Regions from separate parts of the Homo sapiens genome. Here region 1 is linked to region 2. The links come from fine-mapping of genetic effects on gene expression. A gene starts in region 2. The other region holds a variant in brackets. All regions are shown on one strand. Distances are from middle to middle. Region 1 holds the start of FAM3A (FAM3 metabolism regulating signaling molecule A). Region 2 holds the start of ATP6AP1 (ATPase H+ transporting accessory protein 1).

Region 1 (4,383 bases), 89 kb before region 2:
AGGTGGCTCATTCAGGGCCCTTCTCAAGCCACTTTCTAAAAGTGTCAACCAGTCACTGTTAACTGATGCTTCTGTATTGGTGGAAATGAAATATCTATTGATTTCCGTGCATGGTGGCACATGCCTGTAATCCTAGCACTTTGGGAGGCCGAGGCAGGCGGATCACCTGAGGTCAGGAGTTCGAGACCAGCCTAGCCAACTAGTGAAACCCCATCTCTACTAAAAATACAAAAAAATTAGCCGGGTATGGTGACAGACGCCTGTAGTTCCAGCTTCTCGGGAGGCTGATGCAGGAGAATCACTTGAACCCGGGAAGCAGGAGTTGCAGTGAGCCGAGATCACGCAACTGCACTCCAGCCTGGGCAACAGAGTGAGATTCTGACTCAAAAAAAAAAAAAAAAAGAAAAGAAAAGAGAAAAAGAAATATCTATTGATAGAATTTTTAAAAGAACTCTATATTTCTATGGACATATATATGAGCCCATAAAAGTAATACATGGCCGGGCACAGTAGCTCACGCCTGTAATCCCAGCACTTTGGGAGGCCAAGGCCGGCAGAACACGAGCTCAGGAGTTTGAAACGAGCCTGGCCAGCATGTTGAAACCCCGTCTCTACTAAAAATATAAAAATTAGCTGGGTATGATGGCAGGCACCTGTAATCCCAGCTACTTAGGAGACTGAGGCAGGAGAATTGCTTGAACCTGGTAGGCAGAGGTTGCAATGAGCCAAGATTGAGCCACTGCACTCCAGCCTGGAGACAGAGCAAGACTCTGTCTCGGGGGAAAAAAAAAAAAAAGTAATATACACACACACAAAAAGATAGTAGTGATGGTTGTACAACATTGTGAATGTAACTGATGCCACAGGATCGTATACTTAAAATGATTTGGATGGCAAATGTTATGTTATATATGTCTTACCCCAATACAAAAGTACATCTATAAATATATAGTATTATTTTGGGTGTGCTCCTCTCTGTATAGAGGTTATCCCGTGGTGTGTGTCTGTAACTTGATTTTTTCCAATTCTGCCCTCAGTTTCCTGCTCTTTCCGGGCCTCAGGAGGCTTGACATCCCTTTGACCACAGCACTGAAAGGTGTTCTCTTTGCTGAGAACTCAGTGTCTTCTGCCTGGCAGAGGCTTCGGCCCTCTATTTTTGTTTCTATCCCTTATGCATTCTCCCCGGCAGGTGCCCCTCCCAGCTTTAAGTGTATGTATACTCTGGATTTTTCCGTCTTCAGAACAGTGCTCAAAAATACCTGGGGTGTCCTTCTAACAGAAAGTGCAGAGACGTCTGCTGCAGGATTGCCCACCCCCATTTTGTAACATCTGCTATTTGAGAACTGCTGAAGCTGCCCTGATCTATGAGGGCTGACCTGGAAGAACAGATGACTGTGAGTGTACCCCAGGACGTTGGCCTGGATGGTGACAGACCATGTGCTCTAGTCACCGTGCTGGCCAGACCCCCACAGGAATCCAAACCATCCCAGAGAAAATAAGGGACTTTTGCAAGGCTGCCCCAGGAAGCACGGAAGACGTGGAACTGAATCCCAGGCCTCTGGCCCATCACCCACGTGGTGTCCCCAAGGAAGGGAGAGTTGTCTCGGAATGCTCAGGGGGACTCATTAAAGCAACACTTTCATAAATGCCTGCTCTGAACAACATGTAAATATTGTCTTTGAAAAACACCGGCTGGCAGCTCAAGGGTGTGAGTAACCTGGAGCTTCTTCGACTGGGCCCCCCTGAGGAGGGCATGGAGCCCAAGATTCGTTACCATAATTACTTGAGAGGCTGTCAAATTCCATGACAAAACGCAAATGCAAAGCCCTGGCCCCAGCAGCAGGCAGCTGAAAGGGACCTTGACCCTGTTGAGTACTCCAGTATAGAAGCTGCTGGATTCTAACCAGGGCTCTCCCATGCCCGGCTCTATAAACTTTCTCTATATTTTGCATTGTTTCCCTAAGGGTAGGAGATTCCCGTAAGTTGGGTCAAAGGGCAGGGAGGTTTCCGTGGTTCTCATTGGGCCCTGCTGCTGCTCTCCAGACAGATGATGGATCAGCTGTCAGGGTGGCCCCGGCCATGCCAGCGCAGTAGGTGGTCAGGGCGCACTTGGGGCAGCCGGCAGGGCAGAAGGGACGGGAGCTTGACCCGTGTTCTCATGGGCAGAGGGAGCCCGGGCAGTGTTGGGGGCAGCGTGCGGGCAGGCGCGGAGGGGAGATAGCCAGGCAGTCAGGGAGAATTGGGGTGACTGGAGAAAGGCCGAAGGGCCGCGTCTGCCTGCGGCCGGAGACCACCCCAGGTCCATACAGCCAGCTGGGTGCCGGGCACCATTTGGAGCCGCTGGGAAAGCCAAGCACCGCTCTTTCTGGAGCCTTCTTTTTTCCTATTGTTAGGGAATTCACGACGTCACACTTGTTTTCAAGTGAAAATAAGAGTTGTGTAGGACGCGAAAGTCACGTGACTTGAAAGCTGAACCTGAGAGGCCTCAAAATA[A/C]ATTCTGGTTTGCTGTGAAAGCCTCGGGTTATAGCGCTAAACTCCCCCCTCCACTGCCCCCGAAAGTTGTATTCTCCTCTGCTTTTAGGGTGGGGTGTGGCGTAAACAACACAGCTTGAGCAGCTCTGAGGAGGAGGGTGTTAGAGACCAGGCAGGCGGAGCAGGCAAGAGTTTTCAAGGATGTCGAAATAGTTTGAGACGCCCCGTCCCATTATAAAAGTGATAACGAGAGACAGCAGGAACGCGCTTCTGGACAGAAAACAGACCCTAAGGAAAGGCAGCCAGAGGCTCACGCTGGATCCTGCGGTCTTCCCTATCTGCGCCTCTGTACCTCCCTTGCCTTTACAAAGCGCATGGATCAACTTTGGAACAGGTTCTAATTCTGCCCCAGATCCATCTGCGTCTTCCCACGACTCACAAATCTGACCTCAGGGTGCAAGCGCAGCCCCAGCCCTCTAAGCCTGGGTAGGCAGGGCTCTCCCACCCGAGAAAGGGCCGAGGGGAGACTTCCGGGGCGGGACCGACGTGGGCCCCTCCCACTCGGCGGCCGGTGGGTTCAGCCTGAACGCACTGCGGAGGTGGGGCCGACGAGGGATCCAGGGGCGGGACAGGTTCGGGGCGGGACAGGTTCAGGCCCCTCCCATGCGGCGGCCAGCGCGAGCGGTAGAGGCGGGTCTGGAGGCGGGGCCTGCGTGGAGCCAGACGGCGCAGCTGCTGCCGGGGGCGGGGCCGGCGGGCTGTGGCCCCGCCCTTAGCCGCCATTGCCGGGCCTGCCTGGCCACCCTGCGCAGCGGCCTTGCGTCCTCTCCCGGGGCGGAGCGGGTCGGCGGGCCTGACAGGGAACCTCCCTGACCGAGCCCACGTCTCCCCACGGCCAGAGAAATCTCCGGCCCGGCCCGCATCGCCAGCCCCCAGGCCCGGAGGAACGGCCCGAGCCCAGGAGAACCACATCTTCGTCCCAGCCCCGGAGGCTCCTGTGGGCAAGATCGTGAGCCAACGGGTTCCTGAGGCCCCTCCTGGCCAGGCAGGGTTTCCCCGCGCGTTTCCGAGGAGCCCTGCCTGGCCGGGCGGCTGGACAAACAGGTCGTAGCACCGATCGCGCCCGCCCCCAGCAGGGGTCCCGCACAGGCTTGCCCCTGACCCCCACCCAAACCTGTCCTTCCGCTTTGCCCCCAAACAGTGCACTTGCCGGCGGTCCCAACCCAGCAGGAGAAGTGGACATGAGGTTGGCAGGTGGGTGGCTTCCACAGCGAACGGGAGGGAGTTGAAAAGGGCACCTGGCTGGAGGCCCAGCGTCGCGACATCTGTGTCTGGAGAGGCCCGGGTGAACCACTGGGTTTGGTTTTGGAAATGGAGGACTCTGCACAAACACTCGTTCCTTGACCTTAACCAAATCCTTTCACCTCTGAGGACGTCAGCTCCCCGAGCTATGACATGAGGATTAGTATAGTCAGTATCTCCCAACGCAGGTAGCAGACCAGCTGCTTTTTGGAAAATGAGTGGTGAGAGAGAGGAGGTGGGCAGTCCAGGTGGAGAGGCGTGGTCTTAGAGGGGAAGTGACAAAAGTGGCTGTGGGCTTCGACATGAACCCGATGACAGCCCTACTGTCACCTGGACAAGTAAGATGAAGATCCTTGGGGAGGGATAGGTTGGGGCTGGGTGGAGAGTAGAAACAACTCGGGAATTGGACTTCAGACTTGCTAAGGTGGTAACTTTGTGGACATATCCAGGTGGAGCTGGCCACTGAGGAACCAGCTGGCAGGGAGTGGTTTCAAGAGAGGCCACGGCTGGAACTAGAAAATAGAAAGTCATTGACACATGGTGCTTAATTAAAGAGCTAGGAGTAGATGACATCATCTAAAAACACACTACAGGCCGGGCGCGGTGGCT
Region 2 (4,383 bases):
GCCTAGCCACCTGCAAACCATCTCCTACATCTCCTACCCCTTTCTCTCACTCACTGTGCTCCAGCCACACCAGCTCTTCCTTGAGCTGGCCAAGAGCACACCTCGCCCAGGACCCTCGCATTTGCTGTTCCAGGAATGTCCTTCCCCAAACGGCTCCCTCCCTCCATTAAGATCGCTGCTCATATATCACCTCCTCAATGAGGCCTGGCCTGACCACCCTTATCTAAAATAGCATCCCAGTCACTCTGTCCCCTTAGCCTGCTTCCTTCCCTAAAGGCCGTAACACTGACATCATATCCTATACCGACTTAGTATTTACTGGCCACCCTCACAAGAATGTCAGCTTCCTGAGGGTGGGGGCTTGGGTTCTTCTGCTCACTGCCATATCCCCAACACTTCACAATACCTGGCACATAGTAGGCTTTCCATATTGGGCAAATGAATGAATGGGTGAATGCCCTAAGACTGGGGGATCCTGGCTAGATGTTTTATGTGGATTATAAGAATTCCCCCTCACAGGCCGGGCGCGGTGGCTCACGCCTGTAATCCCAGCAGTTTGGGAGGCTGAGGTGGGTGGATCACGAGGTCAGGAGTTCAAGACCAGCCTGGCCAACATGGTGAAACCCCATCTCTACTAAAAATACAAAAAAATACAAAAATTAGCTGGGTGTAGTGGCGGGCGCCCTGTAATCCTAGCTACTCGGGAGGCTGAGGCAGAGAACTGCTTGAACCCGGGAGGCGGAGGGTGCAGTGAGCTGAGCTGACATTGCACCACTGCATTCCAGCCTGGGCAACAGAGCGAGACTCCGTCTCAAAAAAAAAAAAAAAAAAGATTTCCCACTCACAGCCCTCTGATATAGGTGGTGTCTTCATTTTACAGATGTAGAAACTGTCATTCACAAAGATTATTTCATGCCTCCAATGGCTGGTTACATGGTAGAACTAGGACTCAGTTCCTATTTGACTATATTATTTACCACCTCCTGAAAAGACTTCAGGCCACCACCATCTGCCCACACAGCAACCAAGGGAGACTACAAGGGCAATGAGCCATACAGGCCACCAACAAGGGAGGGCCTAGCAGAGACTTGCTATCTTAGAGTCATCTCATGGTCTCCACGCCTGCTTTTGGGGCAAAGATCCTGGATGGGAAGGAAAACAGCATGCGGGTTATGAGCTCCAATTGGGAGGGAGGATTGGCAGACTCAGGCTGGAACCAAAGTGGTATCTATCAACTGTAGTGAAACATTGTATCTCGACAAACCTTACTTTCCTTGGCAGTGAAACCAAGATAATGACATCAGTGTAGCAAGTGCCTACAAAGCACTAAACAGGTGAGCATTTTCCAATTATCATTATTATGATCATCACAGCTAGAATTACAACTCTGCCACCCATTAGCTGTATGAGCTTGGACAAGTCACTTAACCTCCAGCCTCAGTCTTCTCATCTATAAACAAACAGGGACGATAATCCCCACCCACCATATTGGACTAAGTCAGATATCCAAAGTGCTTGGTACTCAGTAGGTACCTGGCCTCTGGTCCGTCGCTTCCTCCAATCAAGTTGGTGCCATTTCCGAGGCTGTCGCCATGCCCACTGAAGCGTTTACTACAGGCCTTCCCATGAGACGACCCACACCTCCCTACAGTTGGGACAAGGTCACTGAAGCTTCCCTTGGGGAATGGGCGTCAGTGTCATGGGGGGAGGGGGCCTGGCTGCCTCCCGATGACCGGGGGAGAGTGGGCTGGGGCGGGCGCACCTTGTCCTGCAGGAACAGCAGCACATTCCTGGGACCCAGCTCCAGGGCGGGATCTAAGTAGGTAGAGAGCTGCAAGTCGCTGGTGATGTGGCCTTCATGAGTGTCGGCCGCAGGAGCCCACAAGTCCCTGGCAGGGCACAGAAGAGGTGCTGTCAGACGGGGGCGCATGTGGACTGGAGCTCTGTCGCCGGCAGATTCGCTGCGAGCCCCCGAGCAAGGAACAGTCCACCTCCGGGCCTCACCACCCCTCGCCTAGGACAGCGCCGGAGTCGGGCGAGGGCGCCTCAGCCGCCACAGCGCATCCCACCCCGGCCCGCTCACCGGTCACTCGACCACAGCACCAGCGGGACCTGCTGCTCCGCCGCTGCCGCCGCCGCCGCCGCCGCCAACGACAAAAACACCGGCAGCCACGGCATGCGCCAGAGCGCCTGGGCGCACCGCGGCCCCATCCGCACTCGAGCCGTCGCCATGGCCGCCATCATAGCCTCAGCCTCCACTGCCTCAGCGGCCTCGACAGCCGCAGATCAGGTGACCGTTGCCCCCGCCCGAGCCCCGCCTCGCACCTCCATTGGCCCCAGCGCGGGCCGACCGGCAGGGCCGCAGGTAATTGGACCAAGTGCATGCCACTCGCGGCCACTCCTTCTCACTGGTTGGCTGTACGTGTCTCCAGGCGCTCACGCTCCGAGTGGGAAAGGGGATGGGGCCCAGCTAGACCGACTAGGACGAGACAAGAGGGACAGGGAGGCTTCGCGGAACCCTACGCCCACCCGACGCGTTCGCCCGTCCGTTTTTATTTTTATTTTTATTTTGGTTTTTTTGTTGTTGTTCTCTTCTTTTGTCTTTTTTTTTTCTTTAGAGACGGGGTCTAGCTATGTTGGCCAGGCTGGTCTCGAGTCCCCGGGCTCAAGCGATCCTCCCGCCTCAGCCTCCGGAAAAGTGGGACTACAGGCGCGCATCGCCGCACCCGGCCAATCCCTGTTTTAATCCTTTTCCTTAAAATTGCAAAAGTGGTGTCTTTTTCCTGCAGATGGACCCTCCCTGATACAGGTGAGAGGAGACTGTAATCCCTTAGAACGAGGAGTGAAGCGGGCTCAGGATAGCATCTAGGGGAACACCCAGCACTTACATTGGGCAGGAGGAGAAGGGTCCAGAAAAGAGATCGGACAAGGAGCAATCAAAGAGGAAGGAGAAAACCCAGAGCGAAGCGTGGCATCAAAGACACCCTAACGGGCCGGGCGCTGTGGCTCACGCCTGTAATCCCAGCACTTTGGGAGCCCGAGGCGGGCGAATCATGAGGTCAAGAGATCGAGACCATCCTGCACAACATGGTGAAACCCCATCTCTACTGAAAATACAAAAATTAGCTGGGCATGGTGGTGCACACCTGTAGTCCCAGTTACACGGGAGGCTGAGGCAGGAGAATCACTTGAACCCGCGAGGCGGAGGTTGCAGTGGGCCGAGATCGCGCCACTGCACTCCATCCTGGGCGACAGAGTGAGAGTCCATCTCAAAAAAAAAAAAAAAAAAAGATTGTAGTCATGATTGTCACATGTGATTCAGACTAGGACTAGGATAGTGGCAGTTGAGCTGGAGAGAGGAAGTGGGTCTGACAATACAGTCAAAGAAGATTGTAGCTTTTGGGTCTCTCTGAGTTGGGGACTGGGAGACGAGGTCACTTGGGGGCTCACTGAGTTTCGGGTGCTTAGGGAAACCCCCAAGTGGCCATTTCCAGGCCTTAACTAGCTGAGGAGAGAGGTTTTCACTGGAGCTTCACTGTATCCCAGGAGAATCCAGCAAACTTAAAAAGGAAAGCATGTCTATTATGTTTCTGTTACTTTTGTTACATAGTTTCAAGGCAAATACTTCCTCTGGAATGCGGAAGGCAATCTTGCCTCCGCCAGGACTCTGTTGCTGAGCTGCTTCCATGCTTAGGGAAGAAACCCACCTGTGGCTGCTTTTATTCTTCCCTGCATTGCTAGGGGTCCCTGGAGTGATGGCCCTGGAGGCTTCCTGAAGCACCTGCTATGGGCCAGGCACCTGGACTCTGCCCCGGAAGTTGACAGTTTGGTCTAGAGGACATGCAGGACAGCAGGTCATGATACAGGGTCATGAATATTCCAAAGGTTGAGACATGGGACTGGGAGGGATGTAAGGAGAGGGGCACCGATGAAGCTGCTCCCACCAGGAGGTGATATCTAAACTGAACCAATCACCAAATGTTGACAGCACCAATGAGCACCTTCTGTCTGGGGACTTCATCTTTAGGGTAAAAGCATTTTGTTCATTGAAATCCTGGCTGGGCGTGGTGGCTCACGCCTGTAATCCCAACACTGGGAGGCTGAGGCGGGCAGATAACCTGAGGTCAAGAGTTTGAGACCAGCCTAGCAAACATGGCAAAACCCCGTCTCTACTAAAAATACAAAAATTAGCTGGGCGTGGTGGCGGGCACCTGTAGTCCCAGCTACTCAGGAGGCTGAGACAGGACAATTGCTTGAACCTGGGAGGCGGAGGTTGCAGTGAGCCGAGATCGTGCCATTGCACTCCAGCCTGAGCAACAAGAGCGAAACTCCATCTCAAAAAAAAGAAAAAAAAAAAGGGCCGGGCACTTTGGCTCATGCCTG

The links. PIP is the estimated chance that this variant, and not a neighbour inherited with it, causes the effect.
Region 1: its variant is the best candidate, but not a certain one, in a credible set for the expression of ATP6AP1 in whole blood (TOPMed, PIP 0.62).

The regions. Positions count from the first base shown.
Region 1 is chrX:154,515,103-154,519,485 of GRCh38, reverse strand. FAM3A (FAM3 metabolism regulating signaling molecule A) reads left to right here and starts at 3,254. Exons shown (of 9, transcript NM_021806.4): 1 at 3,254-3,726. The coding sequence starts at 3,714. LOC124905229 (a long non-coding RNA gene) reads right to left here and starts at 4,006. Exons shown (of 2, transcript XR_007068357.1): 1 at 3,771-4,006. RefSeq lists silencers at 2,608-2,764, 2,980-3,389 and enhancers at 2,740-3,362, 3,363-3,986. The variant A/C (reference allele first, on the strand shown) is at 2,494.
Region 2 is chrX:154,426,554-154,430,936 of GRCh38, reverse strand. ATP6AP1 (ATPase H+ transporting accessory protein 1) reads right to left here and starts at 2,260. Exons shown (of 10, transcript NM_001183.6): 1 at 2,084-2,260; 2 at 1,763-1,889. The coding sequence starts at 2,244. It overlaps ATP6AP1-DT (ATP6AP1 divergent transcript), which reads left to right and starts at 2,458. Exons shown (of 2, transcript NR_103768.1): 1 at 2,458-2,809. RefSeq lists a silencer at 2,358-2,467 and an enhancer at 2,043-2,544.